2 separate regions of the Homo sapiens genome follow, and region 2 is linked to region 1. Evidence: fine-mapped expression QTL. A gene starts in region 1. The other region holds a variant in brackets. All regions are shown on one strand. Distances are between the middles of the regions.

Region 1 (15,859 bases):
GCGTCTGTCCCGGCAGCAAGAAAACGCCGGCTCTTCGTCAAGACAGAAAAGGAAAATGAAGGAAAACTGCACACTTGTCCAACCCTCCACCTTGCAGGCAGGCCCTTTGCCACCGGAGTCCACTCCCGTCCCCAGACCAGCCAGCTCCCTGCACCCAGAGCCCCAGACCACACAGCCCCTGCACCCGGAACCCCAGACCAGCCCCCTGCACCCGGAGCCCCAGACCAGCCCCTGCGCCTGGAACCCCAGACCACACAGCCCCCTGAACCCAGAGCCCCAGACCAGCCCCTGCACCCGGAGCCCCAGCCCACACAGCCCCCTGCACCCGGAGCCCCAGACCACACAGCCCCCTGCACTCGGAGCCCCAGATCACACAGCCCCTGCGCCCGGAGCCCCAGACCAGCCCCTGTGCCCGGAGCCCCAGGACCGCAGGAGGCTGCCCTGCTCCTGGCACACAGTGGTGCTGGGGAAGGAGCCTGTGGGCCACACTGCTGTCTGCCAGGCTGGGGCTGGGGCTGGGGCTCCAGGGTCCCCCAGGGGTGGGGAGATGGAGCTGCCTCCATGGTCCTGGGCACCTACCAGCACCTAGCAGAGTGTGGAGAGGCTTCCTCAGAGGCTGAGGCGGGCGTGTGCTTGGCCTCCTCAGGGCCCTTGCCGCACATCGGTCCCCTCACCGCCCAGCCTGTTCCCCGCCTGCAGCAGGGCTCAGTGGGGACTCACGGTCTAGTTCTTGGCCTCGCGAGGGCCCTGGTGGAAGCTGGGACTGGCCCTGCACTGCTGCTGCCTCGTTGTGTGCGCTGGGCCAGCCTCTGCGCCTCTCTGAGGCGTCCAATGCCCCCACGAGGCCGGGCAGGGAACCTCCTCTGGGAAGGAGGGGACGTCTCCATGGCCCCTGGGGTGGCTTCGGGAGAGCTGGGCTTGGCCTGACCTCTGGGAAGGCTCTGAGCAGCCAGGGAAACCCCCACTGGGCAAAGGGCCAGGGCACCCTGGGAAACCGACGCTGCAGCTTCCTCTTGTTTGTGGGGGCACCTCCTCCTGCTTTGCGGCCCGGCACCCAGTAGGTGCTCAGAACCTGCCTGGCCACGTGAATCCTCTGCTCACCCCCACCCGCCCCCACCCACAACATCCCGGCCCGGAGGTCCGGCCCCTCCACCTCCTTGGTCCTTCTAGGAGCTCCAGGGGTGCATCTGATCGGGGCACAGCCTTCCCCACCCATGGCCCCAGGACGAGCCCCATGTGCCACCCTCCGGCCCTGCTGGGCTCAGAGGCCCCCTGGACTTCAAGGGTGAGCAAGGCCTGGTCCAGGGGCCCGGAGGCCTCCCCTGGGCTGGCATGGGCTCCAAACAAGTCCTGGGCACAGAAGCTCTCCTAGCTCCGGACCCCACACCCCAGTCCTCCACTGCCACATCTGGGCCTTTCCACATGTGGCCCCCGTCAGACATGGCTCTGTGGGACACAGGCCTGCCCAGGCCCACCCGGCTAGCTTCATCCACCACCCAGTTGCCAGGAGAGGTGCTCTCCCCATCTGACGGAGGAGACACCGAACCTGGGGTCTCCCTGCACCCAATCACCCTATGACAACCCACAGTGGCCGCTGCTACAGGCCAGATCCTTCTATGCCCAGGCCTGACCCCAAGGGGAGTGGAGGCATCGGAACCCTGGTCATCGGGCAGCCTGGGGTCAAAATTCAGTGGGGGACCTGCCCAGTTCTGGGCGAGTCTAGGGTTTGCCAGGAAGACAGAGCTGGGATGACCTCCCCTCTGAGCTAGTCACAGGGTGTGGAGAGGGGCAGGGGGTCACCTTGGTGTGCACTCATGTGGACACGTTTGCTCCCAGACACACACATGCTCACATACGCCAGGGGACTTAGCCCTATCTCCCTGAGGTGGAGGCTGTGGAGGACCTTGCCCTGCCACCTGCCTCAGGGGACCCCTGGTCCCAGGGGGGCTAGCGAGGCCACTAAGGCCAGCACACGGGGGTCTCTATCCCGGACCAGTGAGGCCAGCACACGGGGGTCTCTATCCCGGACCAGTGAGGCCAGCACACAGTGGTCTCTATCCTGGACCAGTGAGGCCAGCACACGGTGGTCTCTATCCCAGGCCAGTGAGGCCAGCACACGGGGGTCGCTATCCTGGACCAGTGAGGCCAGCACACGGGGGTCTCTATCCCATCCAGTGAGGACACCACACGGGGGTCTCTATCCCGGAGCAGTGAGGCCAGCTGCCCACCCCAGGCTTCCTGCTAAACATCCTCCCTCCCAAAGATTTCTGGAGTCTGCCCTGCCTTCTGCCCCCAGCCCCCACGTCTCCCCCATCCTCCTCTGGACCCCCATCCTCCACACCCAGCCTGAGGCAGCCCCGCACGTCTCCCCCGTCCTCCCCTGGACCCCTGTCCTCCACACCCAGCCTGAGGCAGCTTTGCAGATTCCACCTAGAAACCCACGTGCCTCGTGGGCCCTGGGTCTGGGGAGGAAGGTGTCTCCAGGGCCTGGTGCCCCAGCATCTTGGGCAGCAGGGGGCACGGCCCAGTCCCCAGCCCGCACAAGCAACACTTACAATGACCACCTGGCAGACATGGCCGCGACAGCGCTCCGAGTAGGACGAGTAGTGCACGTACACCAGCCAGCTGCCTGCAAAGACGCCCAGCCAGGCCAGGAAGATGCAGCGGACCCTGAGGCCTGGGAGCCGGCCCTGTGGGGGAAGGGGCTGCGTGAGGAGGTGCCCTCGGGGCACCCAGGCTCAGGGTGCTCTCAACCCCACTTCCCACAGGAAGGGCCTCCGGATCCACCCCAGCCTTCCCCTGCCATCCCCTTGGCCCCCTGGCACCCCCGTCTTCTAGAATCACCCCCAGCTCAGCGACACCCACTCCTGGCTCTGCCTCTCCAGGGTCACATACCAGGGGCTGCAGGGGCCGGAGGTGGGGGCAGGCGCTGCCCAGACTTTTCAGTGTTATGGGCAGGTACAAATAAATGTCAAAACCAGGGGACTACAGGGTGGCCGATTCTTTCCTCTGCTGAATGAAATTTTTTTTTTTTTTTTGAGAGGGAGTCTTACTCTGTAGCCCAGGCTGGAGTGCAGTGGCGCGATCTCGGCTCACTGCAACCTCTGCCTCCCGGGTTCAAGTGATTCTCCTGCGTCAGCCTCCCGAGTAACTGGGACTACAGGCATGCACCACCACGACCAGCTAATTTTTGTATTTTTAGTAGAGACGGGGTTTCACCATGTTGACTAGGCTGGTCTTGAACTCCGGACCTCAGGTGATCTACCTGCCTTGGCCTCCCAAAGTGCTGGGATTACAGGTGTGAGCCACTGTGCCTGGCCGAATGAAGATATTTTTACAAACCCTTCCTATCCTGATCTCATTTCATAACATCGTCACCTCCGCACAAGGCCAGGTGAGCGCGCCCACCGCGAGAGACACTGCCCCTATTTTTCCCACCGTCCACCGTAATGCAGATTGGTGGGAAGTTCCGGCCGGACCAGACCCACAAGGAGAACCAGGTTTGGAGAACGGGGCCCTAGGAGCCCAACGCAGCCACATCCTGGAAGCCTTTAAGAGACGCAGGCGGGCCGGGCATGGTGGCTCACCCTGTAAACCCAGCACTCGGGGAGGCTGAGGCGGGCAGATTGCTTGAGCCCAGGAGTTTGAGACCATCCTGGGCAACATAGGGAAACCCCGCCTCTACAAAAATACAAAAATTAGCTGGGTGCGGTGGCTCACCCTGTGATCCCAGCTCTTTGGGAGGCTGAGGTGGGTGGCTTGCTTGAGCTCAGGAGTTCGAGACCAGCCTGGGCAACATGGCAAAACCCCATCTCTACTAAAAATACAAAAATTAGCTGGACATGGTGACTCACGCCTGTAGTCCCAGCTACTTGGGAGGCTGAGGCTGGAGGATTGATTGAACCCGGGAGGTTGAAGCTGCAGTGAGCTGTGACCCCACGCTACACTCCAGCCTGGGTGAGAAAGCGAGACCCTGTCTCAAAAAAAAAAAAAAAAAAAAAAGACACAGACTCAGACACCGATGTTCACAACAGCCCAGGGGTGGGCAGTCCTTAAGTTCACAGCCGGGGGATGGAAGAGCAGCTGCGTCTATCCTATCCACACTGCGGAGTGACTGTGTCCTGAGAAGGAAGGAGATCTGATGTCCACCCAGAAGGGAGGAGCCCCAGGACAAGAGGCTCAGTGAAACGAGCCCGTCACCAAAGCACAAATCCTGCAGGACCCACTTACACGAGGTCCCCAGAGTCGCCAAAACCATAGAGACAGGAAGGAGAGTAGAGGGAGCCGCGGGCTGGGAAGGGACTGGGAGTGTGCGTTTGATGCAGACAGAGCTTCAGTTTGGGAAGGCGGAGAGCTCTGCGGACAGAGGGAGGTGACCACTAAACTGTGCCCTTAAACAGGGTTAAGATGATACACTTTATGCCATGTGTATCTTACCGCAGTTAAAAATTAAGGTCGGGCGTGGTGGCTCACCCCTGTAATCCCAGAACTTTGGGAGGCCGAGGCAGGCAGATCACCTGAGGTCGGGAGTTGGAGACCAGCCTGACCAACAGGGAGGAACGCCATCCCTACTAAAAATACAAAATTAGCCAGGCATGGTGGCGCATGCCTGTAATCCCAGCTACTTGGGAGACTGAGGCAGGAGAATCGCTTGAACCCGGGAGGCAGAGGTTGTGGTGAGCTGAGATGGCGCCATTGCACTCCAGCCTGGGCGACAGAGTGAGGCTCCGTCTCAAAAAAAAAAAAAAAGTAAGCAGGCAGCCCCTGGCCCCTGCCTAAAGCTCTGACCCAGATGTCTGGGAGCCGGCTTTTAGGGAGGGCTCCAGGTCACTCTGCCATCCTCAGTCCCTCTGCCTTGGTTTCCCTACCGGCCTGAGGAGGCTCAGGCACCGGCTCTAGGGTGCAGGCCTCCAAGCTGGGCTTCCAAGGGTGACAGCCAGGGACAGCTGCATGCCACCTTCCCTCTCCCCAGCCCCCTAGCAAATTTCAGGCCTCTCAGGCACTGGCCAGCAGAGGGGACTTGCCCTACACAGGGGTTCAGACATCCCTGACCTGCAGCTGAAGGGTGAAGGGCCCAGGCTTGGGGGCCAGCTTCCCCTCAGAGAGGCCCCACTGCTGGCTCCAAGCACTCCCTGTGGCCTCCTGTCCACCTGCGGCCAGGGAGAGGCTGCCCTGGGCACATCCTCCTCCCGGCAGCGCCTGGCCACACCCCCACCTGCCCAAGCCAGAGCCCCCATCAGAGGTCGTGGGCTGCAGCCCGGCTTAGGCCGTGAGCAGGGGACTCCTCCCTAAAATGGGGCCACCAGCTCCTCAACGAGGACAAGGCACAGCCCAGGCAGCTGAGGTCGTTTTTTCTGGTTCTTTCAGGATGGGTGGGCCCTGGTCTCCTGCTTCCCCGGCATCCACTCACGGATGGCCGCCCCAGGCAGGGCTACAGAGGGAGGACCCCCAGCAGCTGGGGAAGGGCCCAGACCTCCAGTAGCAGTGGGGTCCTGGGGGTCCTGGAGCAGAGGGCGTGGCTCCGGTGTGGGGAGCCCTCCAGGCCCAGGTTGGTCTCCGCCCCCTCAGACCACTTGTCCTGGGCACTGAATCTGTTTCCGGCAGACTTGCTCAAGATGAAAAACAGGAAAGCAGAGAAACAATGGGGGGTGGGTGTTGTTCTGGCAGGATAAGGTCGGATGGCTCCGTCTGGGGTGAACGTGCCCAAGGCAGGGCCATGCAGGGAGGCCCAGCATGGGCGGGGCCTCGGAGGACAGCCAGGAGGAGGGAGGCTGCAGCTGGCCTCGGGCCTAGGGCTGACCCCAGCTGGGGACAGTGACACCAAGCTAGGGACTTACCCAGTTCTGCTCCCCAGAGCCCCGACTGGGCTTGGGCCAGGGCCTATTTCCGCCTGGCCAGCTCTGGTTCATCCCCCAGCTCTTTCGTTGTTGTTGTTCTTTTGAGACAGGGTCTTGCTGTGTTGCCCAGGCTGGAGTGCAGTGGTCCAGTCACAGCTCACTGCAGCCTCGAACTCCCAGCTTCAAGTGACCCTCCCATTAAGGCCTGGCATTACAGGCAGGAGCCACCTTGCCCAGCTCTCCCCTAGGTCTTGATCTTCCCCAGCTGCCATCCCTGACCCTGCTGTGGATCCTGGGGTCCCAAGCAGCTGCTCTGCAAGGCCCCCACAGTGCTCCCTGGCCCACCCTGGCTCCCGGGCCTGGCACAGATGGACGGGCAAAGCTTGAGTGTGGAGGTGGCCCCACCATCCAGGACCTGGGCTGGGGCTTTGCAGGGGCAGGTGGGGACCAGCTCCCGGTGTAGCCACTTGGAGGATAGGGAAGGTCACCCAGGGGATGGGAACAGCACAGTGGTCCTCAGCCCAGCAGGCTCAGACCGTGGGCCAGGAGCCCCACAGCACTAACCCAGAAAAGCAGTTCACAAGGCCAGGAAACTGAGGCCCTCGCCACTAGAGGGGCAGGCTGGGCTCCCACCAGGGCTCTGGCCCCGAGCCAGCCACCCTGGGAGCAGCCAACACCCCTCTGCTGCCATTCCTGGGCGGAGCTCCAAGCATCAGCATCTCTTCTGCAGCTGCTGGTCGAGGCCTTTCCTCGGGGGAGGGGACCACTGTGCACCCCACCTCCCAGCGACTGGGGTGGTCCTCAGACCCCTTAGCTCTCACCCTGCCCCAAGGCTGAGCCGGGACCACCACAACCTGAAGCCCCAAGTGGGCACAGAGGGTCTCGCTGCAATCTGTGGGTTGCCAGGTTCCATACGCTCTTCCCAGAAGGGGAGCTGAGGCCAGCCAGGCCCTGAGCTCAGGCAGGACGCAGGCAGGGTTCCTCCTGCTGACCCAGGACCACCCTGCGGGGGCCGGGGAGATACAGGCAAATCTGACCAGGACTGGCGCCTCCGGCAGATGGCTGGGGTCCTGGAGGGTCTGGGAGGGCATCCCATCCGAGGCCGGGCCCCGGATGATTGGAGCCTGATGGGCCTGGCCTGCATCTCCCCAAAGCAGAAGGTGAAAGGGCTCCTGGCAGCTGGAACCCAAGGCGGCCCGGGCCTCCCCTGCGGACCCGGCCAGGCCCCTGGAGGGGACGGTGGTTCAAGGTCATCCCGGGGTCAGGGCAGGGTCCCCGCGCTACGGCTGGCTGATGGGATGAAGGGGCAGGGGGCGGGGAGGTCATGTCCTTGCCAGGGCGTTTCTGTGCGTCCCAAGTTTTCTACCGCAGAATAACACACCTCATTTTTTAAGTGGAGAAAAGAAGAAAGGACTTCGGTGTGGTTTCTGGGCCTGGGGGGCAGGGACCGCCTGCAGGTCGGGGCGAGGGCCTCCAGGCCGCAGCATCCCCGCGCCCGGACCCTCCTGTCGCCGCCACCGCCCCTCCCCCAGCGTCCCGTCCTTCCGGAGCCACTCGCCCCCTCCCCGCTGCCCACCCCGGGCTCATGAACCCTTCGTGTCCGAACCCGGGGCCCCGCTCCGTACTCGGCCCACTCCGGGGCTGGAGCTCGGCCTCCCCAGGCAGAGGCGGCCGGGGGCGGCGGGCGCGCACCGCGCTTACCTGCAGGCGCTTGGAGAAGGGGCAGAAGAGCACCAGGTGCGCCAGGCGCCGCAGCCGCCGCATGGTGGGCTCCGGCCGGGGCTGCGCGGGCCCCGCGGCTCGCTCGGCCTCAGCCCCGGCCCGGCCCGGCCCGCAGCGGCCGCCGCTCCCTCGCCATGCGGGCCGCGCGCCCCCGGGCCCGCGTTAAAGGCGAGGGCGCGCGCCTTTCTGTCGGCCGACGGCGGCGCGGCGGGGGCGCGCGGGGGAGGGTCGCGGCGGAGGCGCGCGGGGGCGGGGCTTGGCGCGCGGCCCGCCTTCGACCCCCGGCTCGGCTGAGGAGGGGGCGGGCACCGAGGCCCCGCCCACCCGCAGACCCCGCCCCTCATGCAACGGTGCTGCGGGAGGGGCTGGGGGCGCGCGGGATGGGCCGGGAGGCGGAGCCGGGGCCGGGGGCGCGCCTGTCGGGCTCCTGGGCGTCTCGGGGGCTCTTCCCACGCTGGAGAGAGGCCCCGTGCGCTACGCAGGCTGCGGGGTTCAGGGCTCCCCACGCGCGCCCCCGGTTCGAGGCCGCAGAGCCAGGGCTGGTCCTTCCCCTGGGTCCTCAGGATGGGGTCAGACGCGCGGAGCCCTGGGCTGGCCGAGCCTGCAGCCCGCCCCGGGGTCCGACCCTTCCCTCCTGGCTGAGACCCCGCGCCTTGGCCACTCGCCGGGAGGACACTTCCTTCGCCTCCGCGTGGGGTGCTCGGGGATGAGCCGTTGCCGCCTCCATAGGCAGGTTCCGTGTGAACAGAAGCTTTCATTGCACTTCGGTAAACACCTGGGGGGGCTGAGTTGGACGGTGAGGGATGTGGGGCGCAGCCAGCAGCTGCCAAGACTCGCTCCCTCCCCGCGGCCGCCGGCGCTTCCAGCTGCTCCGCATCCCGGGCGGCTCTTGCTATCGGCAGGTTTTTACATTTTAGCCATTTCCCTGGTGGTGGCGTCTCGCTGGGGCTGTGGTTCGCGTGTTTAACACACTTTCTGCGTGTTCAGTTACCACCTGTGTATCTTCTCCAAAGTCTATTCAAGTTTTTGACCATTAATAAAAATCACGTTGTTTCTTTATTATTAAGTTTTGAGACTTATTTACATTTTGGTTTTAATTTTTAATATCTAGAATGAGACTGGGTCTCAGTGTTTTGCCCAGGCTGGTCTCGAACTCCTGGGCTCAAGGGATCATCCTGCCTTGGCCTCCCAAAGTGCTGGGATTACAGGCATGAGTCACCTGGTGCCCAGCCAAGACTTTTTTTTTTTTTTTTTTTTGAGAGGGAGTCTTGCTATGTTGCCCAGGCCGGAGTGGTCTCAAACTCCTGGCCTCAAGTGATCCACCTGCCTCAGCCTCCTAAAGTGCTGGGATTACAGGCGTGAGTCACCATGCCTGGTCCGAGACTTCTTTATATCTTCTGGATATCTGCCCATTATTACACATGTGATTTGCAAAGATTTTTCTCCCAGTCTGTGGCTTTCTTTTCATTCTCTTAACAGTTTCTTTCTTTTCTTTTCCTTTTTTTTTTTTTTTTTTTTGACGGAGTTTCACTCTTGTAGCCCAGGCTGGAGTTCAGTGGCGCGATCTCAGCTCACTGCAACCTCCGCCACCCAGGTTCAAGAGATTCTCCTGCCTCAGCCTCCCAAGTAGCTGGAACTATAGGTGCAAGCCACCATGCCCGGCTAATTTTTGTATTTTTAGTAGAGACGGGGTTTCACTATGTTGGCCAGGATCACTCCTGACCTCATGATCCGCCTGGCTTGGCCTCCCAAAGTGCTGGCATTACAGGCATGAGCCACCGTGCCTGGCCACACCAGGCTAATTTTTTAATGTTTTGTAGAGATGGGGTTTTGCCATGTTGCCCAGGCTGGTCTTGAACTTTTGGGCTCAAGCGATCCTCCCACCTTGGCTTCCCAAAGCTCTGGGATTCTGGGCGTGAGTGAGCCACTGCCACCAGCCCGGATCGTGCTCTGAGTGTGTCATCTCTAAGAAATTTTTGCCTAACCGAAGGTCACAAAGGTTTTCTGTGCTTTCTTCTAGAAGTTGTATAGTATTCGGCTTCATATTTAAGTCAATGACCCAATTCCAGTTAACTTTTGTGTATTGTGCAGGGTGTGGATCAGAGGGTTTTCAGTTTGGGGCTTGGGGGTTTTGTTAGCATTTTTTGCACATGGACATCCAATCCTTCTGGCATCATCTGTTGAAAGGATGAGCCCCTCCCCACAGAATTGCATGGCAGGGAGTTAAACAGAGAGGGACAAGGCCAGGGGGCAATGGGGTCAGGGTTCTATGCCAGGTATAGAAAGGAGGGGTGGGCCTGGGGGTGTGGCAGTGGCCTAGGCCAGCGACCTGGATGGACAGGGCTGGAGGCAACGTGAGGAAGGGGAGAGGGGCCAGTGGGAGAAAGTAGCAGGCAGACCCTCCCAGTCTCAGTGACCCCCAAGGTAGCCGTAGCCCAGGCTGGGAAGAGGGACTGCCATGTCCCCAAGTGACCTTTCCTCTCTCCCTCGATCCAAGCACTGTCTCTCTGCCAGCGAGGGTCCCGGAGCCCAAGAAAGGGAAGAGCAGTACGAGAGGGTGGGACACAGAGCACAAGCACCAAGAGGCCAACACGTAGGCTTCTCCCGGCCTGGAGGGAGGCCTTGCCATGTTTACAGCTGGGAGAGCATGTGCTTCCCTGCATGGCCTGTCCTCCTCCTGCAGGAGGGCTGTCCCAGGGCCAGGGGGAGTGGGTGCAGGGCAGTGGTGGTCGGTCCGGCCTGCAGGGAGCTCAGCTGGAGGGTGCAGGAGCCCACACCTTCCGTCAATGTGAGCCAGGCCAAGACCGCGGCCAAGAAAGTTCTGGAGGGTCTCCCGAGGAGGGCTTCCTGGGGGAGGGGCGCAGGAGAGCGTGATCCGTGGGTCAGGATCTGGGGAAGGTGTGGGCCATGAGAAGGATGAGCGCAGCCTCAGTGCCACTCCCAGGCTGCCAGGAGGGAGATGGCCCGCCCTGGGAGGAGTGCCTGGTGAGCGCATAGCCGGCCCTGGGTGACCCTGTCCCCGAGATCTTCCAAAAAGGCATTTCCCAGCAGGGCCCGCGGGACGCGGTGCTCCCTCCAGGCAGGGACCAGTGACCACGTTCTCCTTTGCATCTGCAGGCCTGGCCCAGAACCTGCACACTGTCCGTGGCCACTAGCCCATCAAGTGTTCATGGAATGGGCACTGGCCGGGTTCCAGTTCAGTTTGAATGGGTCTAGTTCTCGTTTTGGGGCCCTTGTTTCTACGCCACCAATGGGTGACATCCACCTGCCTGGAACATGAATGGGGCAGAGGACCCGGGAGGTGCTGACTGGTATCTCAGGTGTGGGGGCGGGAACTGGGCCGTGCCTTGCTGTTTCTAGGGCCTTTCGTGGCCTGAGGCCCTGAGCTCAAACCCTGGCCAGGGCAAACGACAGGTAAACGAAAGGTCCACTGCACAGACACAGACGCAGAGACACAGGATCACACACACCTTCGGGGCAGGCTCCGGGGACAATTCTGAAAGTGGAGGACCTTCCTGCCCTGTCTTTCCTTCCCATTCGTCCTGAGGCCTGGGAGTTTCCTCCCCAAGCAGGGGGCCCATTGCTCTCCCTGCCCTGCTGCAAAACTGGCATGTCCCATTCCAACTGCTATAACTGCGTCTCTTCCCCAGGCATCCCCTACTCACACCCAGACCTTTTTTTTGAGATAGAGTCTCGCTCCGTTGCCCAGGTTGGAGTGCAGTGGGGCAATCTCAGCTCACTGCAAGCTCCGCCTCCTGGGTTCACGCCTTTCTCCTGCCTCAGCCTCCCGAGTAGCTGGGACTACAGGCGCCTGCCACGGCGCCCAGCTAATTTTTTGTATTTTTAGTAGAGACGGAGTTTCACTGTGTTAGCCAGGATGGTCTCGATCTCCTGACCTCGTGATCCGCCCGCTTCGGCCTCCCAAAGTGCTGGGATTACAGGCGTGAGCCACCACGCCTGGCCTTTTTTTGTATTTTTAGTAGAGACGTGCTGAGACCAGCTCAGTCAGGGAGACCCTATCCGAGCGGCGTTAGAGGAATTAAAGACACACACAGAGAAATATAGAGGTGTGAAATAGGAAATCGGGTCTCACAGCCTTCAGAGCTGAGAGCCTCGAACAGAGATTTACCCACGTATTTATTGACAGCAAGCCGGTGAGCACACCAGGTGAGCAGCCGTTTAGGGGGCCCTGGTGGATCGAGGGCCCTGGAGAGCCACGAGCTTTCCCTCAGACGGTGGAGTGCGGCGCGTCAAGTTTCCCCCAAAGGGAGAGCTGCCACTTCCGATGAGAAGCTGACATATCACCGGGGACCCGCCCGCTGCTGTTGAATACAGAGTCTTCTGTTTGCAAAGAGAAGCTCTAGGGCCCTCCTTCCTTGTGGTGGTTGTGTCTGAGTTGAAAACCCTCCGAATGGGACTGTCAGGCTCCAGTCACAAGGCCTCCGTGGTCAGGTGGTTCACTGGGACAAGAGCTCGTTGTAAGCTAATTTTGCTTTTTGAAAACAAGGGGTGAACCTAGTAGTCGTGTCAGAGAGTCAGTGAATCCACCACCCCAAGGGGCACATCTGGGCAGAGGCTGTTTTCTTTCTCTGGAGTTTCCAGATAACGGGATCGTCAGCCACAGGGACTTGTCGTTCAAAGGGATCACAGGGCTGTGAGGCCCCAGCGGGAGAGAGAGTGGCCTGTGGCTCACGGGGCGGCAGCTGGAATAGCCTGTTGGTTCAGGCCCTGACGTAAGCAGGCTGATTTGTGGGTTCACTAATTTATTTTATTTATATTATTATTTTTTTGATACCAAGTCTTACTCTGTTGCCCAGGCTGGAATGTAGTGGTGTGATCTCGGCTCACTGCAACCTCCACCTCCCAGGTGCAAGCGATTCTCCTGCCTCGGCCTCCCGAGTAGCTGGGATTACGGGCACACACCACCACGTCTGGCTAATTTTTATATTTTTAGTAGAGACAGGGTTTTGCTATGTTGGCCAGGCTGGTCTCAAATTCCTGACCTCAGGTGGTCCACCCCCCTCGGCCTCCCAAAGTTCTGGGATTACCGGCGTGAGCCACCTCGCCCGACCTGGATTCACTAATTTAAGAAGCCAAGTCGAATGCCCAAATGAAGCACATCCTGTCTCCAACACCCACACAGTCCAATCAAGTGCTGGGTTGTCCTTTTGGGTGAGATGAGGGAGCAAAGAGACAACAGGTTTTCCTTGACTGGCTGAGGCAGTGAGTGCTGTGGACCCACCTCCACCTACCTCATCCCAAGAAACTCCACCTGGTGAGGCAGCCACTGGACGCTGTTGATGTTTTGCCTGCCTCTGTGGACAGGGAGGTATGAGAGTACCCCCGTCTAGTTGTCTAGTTCTAGAGACCCAAGGCTTCTGAGCTGCCAACCTGCAGGACATCATCTGTATCATGGCACCTGTGGACATCAGAAGTCCTAACCTGCCCACAGGTGGCCAGTGGCGGGGCGTGTACGGGGAACACACCTAAGTGTATTGGAGACCTGGCCATGTGAATGCAAGCTGGTCTTGCTCCTCCCCTGCCAGTGGTGTGGCAAAAAGGCATTGGCAGGATCCAAGACAGTGTACCAAGTACCCGGAGCCCACGTGATGGGCTCGGTATGGTCACAGTGTGTAGGACAGCTAGGGCTCTGGGAGCAATGGCTGACTTCTGTTGGTGGTAATCCACTGTCAGCCACCAGCAGCTCTTACCTGCTCCACTGGCCACTCAGGGATGTTGTGTTGCCATATTTCATCTCTTTTTTTTTTTTTTGACACGGAGTGTCACCCAGTGATTGTCACCCAGGCTGGAGTGCAGTGGCGTGATCTCGGCTCACTGCAGCCTCTGCCTCCTGGGTTCACATGATTCTCCTGCCTCAGCCTCGCGAGTAGCTGGAACTATAGGGGCCCGCCACTATGCCCAGCTAATTTTTGTAGTTTTAGTAGAGACTGGGTTTCTCCATGTTGGCCAGGCTGGTCTTGAACTCCTGACCTCAGATGATTCACCCGCCTCGGCTTCCCAAAGTGCTGGGATTAGAAGCTTGAGCCACCACGACCAGCCTTTATTTTTTTGAGGCAGACTCTCACCCTGTTGTCCAGGCTGGAGTGCAGTGGCACGATCTCGGCTCACTGCAACCTCCACCTCCCGGGTTCAAGTGATGGGTTCAAGGGATTCTTATGCCTCAGCCTCCCGAATAGCTGGGACTATAGGTGCCCGCCACCACACCTGGCTAATTTTTTTGTATTTTTAGTAGAGACGGGGTTTCACCATGTTGACCAGGCTGGTCTCTAACTCCTGGTGTCAAGTGATCTACCGGCCTCAGTCTCTCAAAGTGCTGGGATTACAGGCGTGAGCCACCACGCCCAGCCCCATATTTCATCTCTTAGTCCCCCTACTGCCCTTAATCCCTCAATCAAACCTCTGATGCGCCTTTTTCCCTCTGGGATTCTGTACCGCTTCTGGGATTCTGTACCCGCCCTGAAAGCGGGTTGCAGAGAGATTCACACATCCCACTGGCCCTTCTCTGCATTCAGTGCTTGCCAATAGGGAGAGTCCCCTCTGGCACGTACAGGATGGAAGTATGGGGATGAAACACAGCTCCTACGCGGCAACACACACATAGAAGCATCAAAAACAGGGCATCGAATTGGCCCAAAATGCCACACCCACAAGATCACATCAGCCTTCACTCCCCATTTCAAACCGTGCACAAATCCGGTGAGCGGAATCCAGAGAACTTTTCCTTCCACTGGTCCAAACAGGAGAGTGATGTGGGCTACTCATATCCGACAGAGCCATAAAGTTTGAGTTCTTCTTCTCCTCCAAGTTCTCCAGCACACTTGGATGGTGCCCACGGCCTGGGAACCTCTAATCATCTTTCTTCCTAACGTAAGTGGAGGGGGGTGAGAGGTGGAAGGAGGAAGTCCATGAACAAGGTTCTGCGTTTATTTTCAGGCAGCGTGGCAACGGCTCATGACTCAGCCAGGGACTGTTCCATGATTTTCAATCCATCCAATGCTCCGTACCAGGCAGTGAGCTTCTCACAGCTGACCCATCTACTTCAGTTTTGGGAGCCCCATGGCTTAGTAGCCATTGCCATGTTGTTTTCAGCTGGATCTGTGGAGTTTGCACCATTTGGCCAACTCGAGCTTGGTGTCCCAGTGGCAATCTTATTTGAGGATTCTTCCTACTTTAGACAAAATAGATGTAACAGAGTTGATTTGAGCATTAAAGGAGGCATGAATCAGGCAGCACTCAAAGGTGGAAGAGGCTCTGGGAGCTCTGTCTTAGCAGTGTGAGCAGCAGGCTTTTACAGGCTGAATGTGGAAGTGAAGTACGGAAATAACTCAAGGCCAGGCTAGGCACCGTGGCTCACACCTGTAATCCCAGCAGTTTGGGAGGCCGAGGCAGGCAGATCACATGAGGTCAGGAGTTCAAGACCAGCCTGGCCAACATGGTGAAACCCCGTCTTTACTAAAAATACAAAAATTAGCTGGGCATGGTGGTGTGCACCTGTAATCCCAGCTAATCGGGAGGCTGAGGCAGGAGAATCGCTTGAACCCAGGAGGCGGAGGTTGCAGTGAGCCGAGATCACACCACTGCACTCCAGCCTGAGCAACAGAGCATGACTCTGTCTCAAAAAAAAAAAAAAAAAAGAAAAAGAAAAAAAAAAGAAAAGAAATAACTCAAGACCTTTGCCTTATTTGGGTGTGGTCTGATTGGTTGGCTGCCCGTGATTGATTGGTTGAAACCTGGCTATCTGTTAACAAACTACTGAATAAAGTTGTTGTTGGTTAGTGGGAACTCCCAGTACAGAGACGGCCTCAGGCAATGACTGCTCCTTATTTTGCTTTAAACAACTTTAATCTAGCCGGGCAGGGCATGGTGGCTCACGCCTGTAATCCCAGCCTTTTGGGAGGCCGAGGCGGGCAGATCACCTGAGGTCAGGAGTTCCAGACCAGCCTGGCCACCATGGTGAAAGTCCTTCTCTACCAAAAATACAGAAATTAGCCACGCATGGTGGCAGGTGCATGTAGTCCCAGCTACTCGGGAGGCTGAGGCAGAAGAATCGCTTGAACCTGGGAAGCAGGGGTTGCAGTGAGTCAAGATCGTGTCACTGCACTCCAGCCTGGGTGACAAGAGCAAAACTCATCTCAAAATAAATAAATAGATAAATATAAATAAATAAAATTCAGTGGTGCCTCTTCCTCCTGCTCCAGCCACGTAGGACACACCTGTGTCCCCTTCACCTTCTGCCACGATGATGTTTCCTGAGGCCTCCCCAAAAGCAGAAGCCGCTA
Region 2 (8,183 bases), 27 kb before region 1:
GCCTGTCACCTGGGAGGTCTAGGATGAGGGCCAGGGCTTAATGAGTCTCAGGGGCACACACAGTGACCCCAGGCCGGGCACTGAGGGCAGGAGGGTCCTGGGGCCTCAGAGGGGCCTCTGTCTGCCAGGGCAGCCCAGGCCAGCAGTGACCACCAGGTGGGGCAGTGCCGGCTTCCCTGGAGTGTCTGGGGGTGGTCCCTGGGCGGGGAGAGGGTAGCAGAGCCCAAGGCCACACCTGTTGCCTCCCTCCGCTCCCTCCCCTCCCTCCTCTCCCGACACAGGCTGGCGGCTCCAGAGAGGTTTAAACACTGGCCTTGGCGGCTGAGGGAGGAGGGTGAAGATGAGGCAGGGGCTGCTGGTGCTGGCGCTGGTGCTGGTGCTGGTGCTAGTGCTGGCTGCAGGGTCCCAGGTGCAGGAGTGGTACCCCAGGGAGTCCCACGCCCTCAACTGGAACAAGGTGAGCCATGTGCCACTGGTCCCTGAGCCGGGCGCCGGCTCTGGAGCTGGAGCAGGCTCCTGCACAGTCTCCCGGCAGCCGCCCAGGAGCAGGGCTACCAGCAGTTCCAGGCACGGGCGCTGCCCACCTGGCCTCTCCCACTGCAGCCTCCAGCACAGGGGCCCCGCAAGTTGCAGGGCAAAGGCAGGGAGCCTCGAGGGGGTTCGGGGGCCCAGGGGGGTCAGGGAGGGCCAGGGTGGAGGGGCCCAGAGAGCTGTGGCCGAGGAGGTCGGGAGACGCCCAGAGTGCAGAGTGGGTGTGGAGCAAGCGGGGCATATTCTGTAGCGGGAGGGCCCGGGCACCTGCTGAGTGAGCCGTGGGAGCAGCACTCATTGGCACGGCGGTGCCCAGGGCGCTAGGGTTGGCAGCAGGCAGAGTTGGGGGCCGGGGGCCGGCAGGAAGGGAAGTGGCCGAGCAGTACCCAGCCCCCAGGAGGCCATGTGGGAAGGAGCCGGGGCCTCTGAGGTAGGGGGCCTCCCACCTGCTGGCGCCCACAGCCCAGCCCTTTGCTGCCTGGGGTCCCTGACCAGCCGGGCACCTGCTTCTCTGCAGCCCTGCTCCAGTGGCCAGGGCTTGAGTGGCCGGGACCGAGGCGGCACCTGGGCGGAGCTGGGACTCCGGCTCACAGAAGGGTCATTTGTCTCCTGGGTTCTCTAGCTGGGAACCTCGGGGGTGGGGACAGCCCCCGGTGGCAGCTCCTGTCCCCGCCCACACATCCGCTGCGCAGTTTTCAGGGTTCTGGTACATTCTGGCCACTGCCACTGATGCCCAGGGATTCTTGCCGGCCAGGGACAAGAGGAAGCTGGGGGCGTCCGTGGTAAAGGTGAACAAAGTGGGCCAGCTCCGCGTGCTCCTCGCCTTCAGACGGTGAGTGGGCAGCGCCCCCCAGGCAAGGGTCTCCCCTTCCAGGAGGAGGGAGCTGCCTCGGGGCTGGAAAGGAGTCTGGGAGGAGCCTGTCTGTCTGGAAGTTCCACAAGAACCGTCCCCCCACTTCCTCCCCCTAAACTCAGAGGAAGCCACCTGCAGCCCCTGGGACCCCACATGGGTGGGTGTTGGGAGGAAGCTGCCTGCAGACCTTGGGACCCCACATGGGTAGGTGTTGGGAGGAAGCCGCTTGCAGCTCCTGGGCCCCACACGGGTGGGTGTTGGGAGTTTCTCTCGTGCCGTGGGACAGGCCCCAGTCCGAATTGGAAAATCCTCAAACCACAGAGCCTCAGATTGACACGAGTTGGATAGTGAAGCAAAAAACTGGGGACCTGGGGCCCCAACCTTCCCGGGTCCCACGGGAGCAGGGGCGGGACCGAGACGTGTGGGTGGGGCTCGGTGGCTGGCAGGCGGGAGGAGGGGTTCCCTGGTCTGCAGCCTGAGCCCCCGCCTTGGCCCCAGGTTGAAGGGGTGCCAGTCCCAGGAGGTGATCCTGAGGAAAGACGGGAAGAAGCCGGTGTTTGGGAACGCCTGTGCATACGCGGCGGGCCCGAGGGAAGGACAGGAGGGAGGTGTGCTTGGGCTCTGGGCCCTGGAGGAGCTGCGTGATATGCCTCTGACCCCCCTGTGCCTTGAGCAGGCCCCTTGTCCCCGAGAGCACGTGGCAGGCAGGCGTCAGGCTGGCTGTGTTCCCAGAGCCCACACGTCATGTGCTGGGCGGCCTGGCCCGGGAGGGGAGGCCCCGGGAGGGCACTCAGTCCCTCTGGACACCTGCACCTGGGTGGGGGCTCTGAGGCCTCGGGCACCAGGGGTCAGGGCTGTGGGCGGGCACAGCCACGCCATCCGGGAACCAGCGGGCATCTCTGGGCATCTCTTTCAGTGAAAGGGGTGAAGGCCTTCCACGTGCTGTCCACTGACTACAGCTACGGCTTGGTCTACCTCCGCCTGGGGCGTGCAACCCAAAACTACAAGAACCTGCTGCTCTTCCGTGAGCAGGCACAGCGGATGGCAGAGGATGGTGGAGGGGGTGCAGAGGGAGGCATAGAGGGGCGCTGGGCACAGGGGGCCGGGCAGGAGGTGAGGCGGGCAGGGAGAGTGGGGGTTGGGGCGGTGGTCAGGGCAGGGGCAATGGAAGCCGAGACCACAGCAGTCAGGTCCTGGAGGTCGCTGAAGCAAGGATAGGGGACGTCAGGAAGAGGCTGCAGAGAAAGGTGGGCCATCCAGGGGGAGCGGAGGCCACCAGGATGGTGGCGGGTGCAGGTGCAACGTTCTGGGTGAGGGACACAGTGGGGATGAGGAGGCGTGGGAGGGGTCCCAGGTAAGGGTCTGCCCGGGATGGAGGGGTGTGGAAGTGACCCAGTGTGGGTTAAGGGCCACAAACCCAATTCTAGACACCAACCACTTGGGGTACACGGAAAGGAGTGGCCCTCCCGGTTGGAACGGGTAGAGGGGAGGTGGGGTCCTGGGGTCTCAGTCGAGGCAGGGCACGCTCAGGGTGCAGCAAGCTGGGGCACAGCTGAGGGGCTGGCTGGAGGGGACTCTGCAGGCAGAGAGGGTTCCCCAGGTGACAGCGTGGTGACCCTGGCTTCCC[G/A]AGCCTGGCTGCCTCGTAAGTGGGGAGGGGCCCAGCGGCCGCTGTCCTCCCCTGGCCAACCCCTGCTTCACGCCTAAGCTCTGAGGACATTTCAGCAGCTCCTGGGGTAGGGATGGGGGTCAGGGTGCAGACCCTAAAATGGCCAGAGCTGGAGTCTCTGATGTGATCCTGATCTCAACCTCAGATAGGCAGAATGTTTCGAGCTTCCAGAGTCTGAAGGAATTCATGGACGCTTGTGACATTCTGGGGCTCTCCAAGGCCGCCGTCATCCTCCCGAAAGACGGTAAGCTGTGCCCTCAGCCCTTTGCCCTCCTGGCCCTACCTGCCCGTCCCATTGGGGAGCTGATTCATTGGGGGAAGGAGAGATGAAAGGATCCATTTGAAAGGTGCCATTTGAAAGATCCGCCCAAACGTGCCTCCCACCTCCTGCCGCCCCTGAGAATCGGGGCTTGGCCTGGCAGGCCTGGCACCGACAGCGAGAGGCGTCCGGAGCAGATGCTGCATCCGACCAGGCGATGCCGTGGCTGTGGCTGCAGGATCGGGGGCTGCATGGCTGTGTTCTCGTGGTGCCCAAGACGAGCACGCATGGAACCAGGGAGCGGCCGGGGGAGACGTGTTCACGGCTCATGTGTCTCCTCCAAGCAGCCAGCCCACATGTGGCTGTTTTCCTCTCCCACAGCGTCCCGTACACACACCATCCTGCCATGAGAGCCAGCGTCCTCTGCTCTTCCCTTTCGACGCGTGGTCCTCCCAGACCCGAGGAGCGTTGTTCCAGATGTCAAGTGGAGACCACGGCTTGTTGAGAGGTGTTTGGTGACTCTAGGTCATTGACAGTGTGAAAATCAAGTGGCTCAAGGGATCCTTTATGATCACAGAAAGATGGGGGAAGGAGGATACAGGCTGACCGGGTGGCGAGATGTCAGCCAGGCCCCTTCCCCACTGTCTTCTGGAGCACACTGCAGGCTGCTGCTATTCCCTGTCTGCTGTGAAACAGACCACAGGCCGGCCCAACGCAGTCCTCGCCGTGTGCCTTGCCTCTGCCCTCCACGCCGCCGCCACCCTCCGCGTTCCTTTACATCCTGCACTTTCTCAGGAAGCCGTTCGCATATCCACCCAACATGGAGGAGCCCCCATGACGTGCCAGGCAGCGTGCTGGCCCCTGCGGCTGCGTTAGGGAACAGAATCGGCAAACGCAGTCCCAGAGTTGATGCCTGATCAGGAGAAGCCAACTTCAGCAGTGTGGTCACCTGGATACTCGAGTATAGACCCTAGATCACCTGGATACTCGAGTATAGACCCTAGAAGTGTATCTAGGCGCGGCCAGGGCCCCACAACAGCAGGTCTGACTCATTCCATCCAGGGCAGCATCAGGGAGAGCTTCCTGGGGGAAGTGGCATTTGGGCTGACCTGGGAAGGGTGGTGGGTGTTAAGTCAGTTTGGGTGGGGCTGGAGGAGCAGGGGTGCATCCCCAGAACAGGATGTGACTTCTGAAAAGACATCAGAGTAGAGAAAATGGTTTCTCAAGGAGATTGGGGACGCCAGTATCAGAATGGCGGCGGGGAGAGCCACAGAGGAGCAGGAGGGGGCCCACCAGACCACGGCACCTCGAAGGCTGCGGTGAAGGCTTAGGTCTCACTCAAGGGGTGATGACGGGAGGTTGTCTGAGATGAACCCCCCAACTGAATGAATGGACCTTCTTCTGGCCAAGGGGATCCCAAAGAAACCCTGAACCCGAGTCCTCAGCCATGACGGGGTAAGGGGTCAGCCCCTCCTTCTGGCCCGAGAAGAGATCAGAGATTGGTTCTGGGCAGTCCATGGAGAATTTGCTCAGCTGGACCAGTACACGCTTCTCCTTTCATGAATATTCATGACTCCTCCTGAAGCTTATTGAACATCTCTATTTGGCCATCTCCTTCAGCGTAAATTCCTGTCCCCTCTGTCCCTCCCCTCCAAGTGTCTGTTCCAGGCTTCTGGCCTGAGGCTACGCTTCCTAGCCTGTCAGAAGGGCTGCCCTGCTGGCTGCAATCTCTTATGAGAAATAAAGCTCTCCTGTGTGCAAAAAAGTAGTTTGGAGCCCGGGCAACATGTTGAGACTTCATCTCTACAAAAAATACAAAAATTAGCTGAGCGTGGTGGTGGGCGCCTGTAGTCCTAGCTACTCAGGAGGCTAAGGTGGGAGGATTGCTTGAGCCTGGGAGGTTGAGTGAGTCAGGATCGTGCCACTGCACTCCAGCCCGGGCAACAGAGTGAGACTGTCTCAAAAAACATATATATATGCCAGGCATGGTGGCTCACACCTGTAATCCCAGCACTTTGGGAGGCTGAAACGGGCGGATCATGAGGTCAAGCAATCGAGACCATCCTGGCCAATATGGTGAAACCCCGTCTCTGTTAAAAAATACAAAAAATTAGCCAAACGTGGTGGTACACGCCTGTAATCCCAACTATTCAGGAGGCTGAGGCAGAAGAATTGCTTGAACCCAGGAGGCGGAGGTTGCAGTGAGCTGAGATCACACCATTGCACTCCAGCCTGGTGACAGAGCGAGACTCTGTCTCAAAAAAAATTATATATATATATATGAGATATATATATAATATATAATATAATATAATATAATATTATATATATATAGTATATATTATGACATATATATAAAAGGCTGGGCGCCTGTAATCCCAGCACTTTGGGGGGCTGAACCAGGTGAATCACTTGAGTTCAGGGGTTCGAGACCAGCCTGACCAACATAGAGAAAAACTGTCTCTACTAAAAATACAAAGTTAGCCATGCGTGGTGGCACATGCCTATAATCCCAGCTACTCGGGAGGCTGAGGCAGGAGAGTAGCTTGAACCCGGGAGGCGGAGGTTGTGGTGAGCCGAGATCATGCCATTGCACTCCAGCCTGGGCAACGAGAGTGAAATTCCATCTCAAAAAAAAAAAAAAAAAAATACAGCCGGGCATGGTGGCTCACACCTGTAATCCCAGCACTTTGGGAGGCCGAGATGGGTGTATCACGAGGTCAGGATTTCAAGACCAGCCTGGCCAAGATGCTGAAACCCTGTCTCTACTAAAAAAAACAAAAATCAGCCAGGTGCGGTGGCGGGTGCCTGTAATCCCAGCTACTCGGGAGGCTAAGGCAGGAGAATCGCTTGAACCCAGGCAGCAGAGGCTGCAGTGAACCGAGATCGCTCCACTGCACTCCACTGGGCGACAGAGCAAGACTCTAGCTCAAAAAAAAAAAAAAAATACAGGCTGGGTGTGGTGGCTCACGCCTGTAATCCCAGCACTTTGGGAGGCCCAGGCGGGCGGATCACGAGGTCACAAGTTTGAGACCAGCCTGGCCAACATGGTGAAACCCCGTCTCTACTTAAAATACAAAAATTAGCCAGGCATAGTGGCAGGTACCTGTAATCCCAGCTACTCGGGAGGCTGAGGCAGGAGAATCACTTGAACCTGGGAGGTCGAGGTTGCAGTGAGCTGAAATCATGCCACTGCACTCCAGCCTGGGTAACAGAGCAAGGCTCTGTCTCAAAAAAAAAAAAAAAGAAAGAAAGAAAGAAAGAAACTCCAGGATTTAGATGTAGCAGGTGTGGTGCACGCACTCGTGGTGACCGCTCCTCAGGAGGCTGAGGTGGGAGGATGGCTGGAGCCCAGGGGGTCAAGGCTGCTGTGAGCCGATTGCACCACTGCACTCCAGCCTGGGTGAGAGAGGAGACCCTGTCTCAAAAAACATTAAAGAGTGGCAGAGACGTGACTACTTCTTCCAGAATCCCAGGCCAAGGCACAGTCATGGAGAGGTGGGCCCAGGCTCCCCGGCCCCCCTTCGATGTCTCTGCTCCCTCACGCAGGCTGGCTGCAGAGGCAGGACACGAGCTGAGCAGGAGCCCCAAACTGCTGTCCGGCCTTGAGAACCCCGAGTGTGGGCCTCTGAACCACCCATTCACCAGGGTGAGGGCAATGGCTCTGTCCCGGGGGCTCGGGCTCTGCGCCCCCCTTCCCTGGGCCTGGCTCTGTCCCGGGGGCTCGGGCTCTGCGCCCCCCTTCCCTGGGCCCAGGGAAGCAGCCATTTCCACAACTCAATCCTGTCAGTGGGGAGGAGAAGAAGGAAGAAGGGAAGGAGCTGGGAGAATGGGGAGAGGGGAGCACTTGGGGTCCCACGGGCAGGGAGGGAGGGGCAGCAGGAGGGGTTAGACGCGTACACACCACCCGTGCCAGTGCACCTCCCTCCGCAGCGTGCCACCTGGTGGGTCAGAATTGCTGACGGTTCTGTGGGTACCACCCTCCACCCTCCACAGGGCCCGTGCGGTCTATGATGCCCTTTCATCACACACAGCCCTGTGGGTTAGGCCCACTCTGTGGCCCTGGAGTGAGCCTCAGAGACACCATAGCCTCAGCTGCTTCCCAGACAACACCATTTCCCTGACCCCCATTTCAGAGGCAGTGGCATGGCCAGGGTTCTCTCTGGAGGAAGATGAGAACAAGAATCCAGGGGAGGCCGGGCACAGTGGCTCACGCCTGTAATCCCAGCACTTTGGAAGGGAGGCACAGGTAGGTGTATCACCTGAGGTCAGGAGTTTGAGACCAGCCTGGCCAACATGGTGAAACCTCCTCTCTACTAAAAATACAAAAGTTAGCCGGGCGTGGTGGTGCATGCCTGTAATCTCAGCTACTTGGGACGCTGAGGCAGGAGAATCGCTTGAACCCAGGAGGTGGAGGCTATAGTGAGCAGAGATCGTGCCACTGCACTCCAGCCTGGGTGACAGAGAGAGACTCTGTCTCAAAAAAACCAAAAAAAAAATCTGGGGGAGCCCATAGGTGTGTCTGCTACAGATGAACCCCCGGTGAGCCCACAGCCTGTGGACATCCTTGCTGGCTGGCAGCAGAGACAGCTGCGGCCGGGCCGATGGGGCTGGCCAGTGCTCCTGGACACCCCCCACCTCCCGAGGGCCCTGTGCAGTTCTGTCCTGGAGTTACAATGGTCACTTCACTGGGCCTCTGAGGTCCAGGTTGGGGACGAAAGGCAGCAGGGAGTGGCCTGAGGCTCTTGCGAGAGCCCCACAGTTTTGGTCAGAGTCTGCAATTCCCAAAGGTTCTGGCATGGGGCTGGGCACCTGTGTGGCCCCATGGAAGGTGTTTAAAGACCCAGAGTCACCAATTGGGGCTGACGGCTTTT

What was found. PIP is the estimated chance that this variant, and not a neighbour inherited with it, causes the effect.
Region 2: its variant is fine-mapped to the expression of DIPK1B in whole blood (TOPMed, PIP above 0.99).

Annotation. Positions count from the first base shown.
Region 1 is chr9:136,704,408-136,720,266 of GRCh38, reverse strand. It overlaps DIPK1B (divergent protein kinase domain 1B), which reads right to left and starts at 7,695. Exons shown (of 5, transcript NM_152421.4): 1 at 7,539-7,695; 2 at 2,556-2,690. The coding sequence starts at 7,601. LOC124900276 (cuticle collagen 2-like) reads left to right here. Exons shown (of 5, transcript XM_047424334.1): 5 at 1-2,985. The coding sequence ends at 927. RefSeq lists enhancers at 778-827, 5,838-5,967, 6,108-7,032.
Region 2 is chr9:136,735,061-136,743,243 of GRCh38, reverse strand. It overlaps LCN10 (lipocalin 10), which reads left to right and starts at 304. Exons shown (of 6, transcript NM_001001712.3): 1 at 304-457; 2 at 1,224-1,363; 3 at 1,883-1,992; 4 at 2,301-2,408; 5 at 3,196-3,294; 6 at 3,691-5,074. The coding sequence starts at 341. The coding sequence ends at 3,719. RefSeq lists a silencer at 800-899 and an enhancer at 7,484-7,983. The variant G/A (reference allele first, on the strand shown) is at 3,012.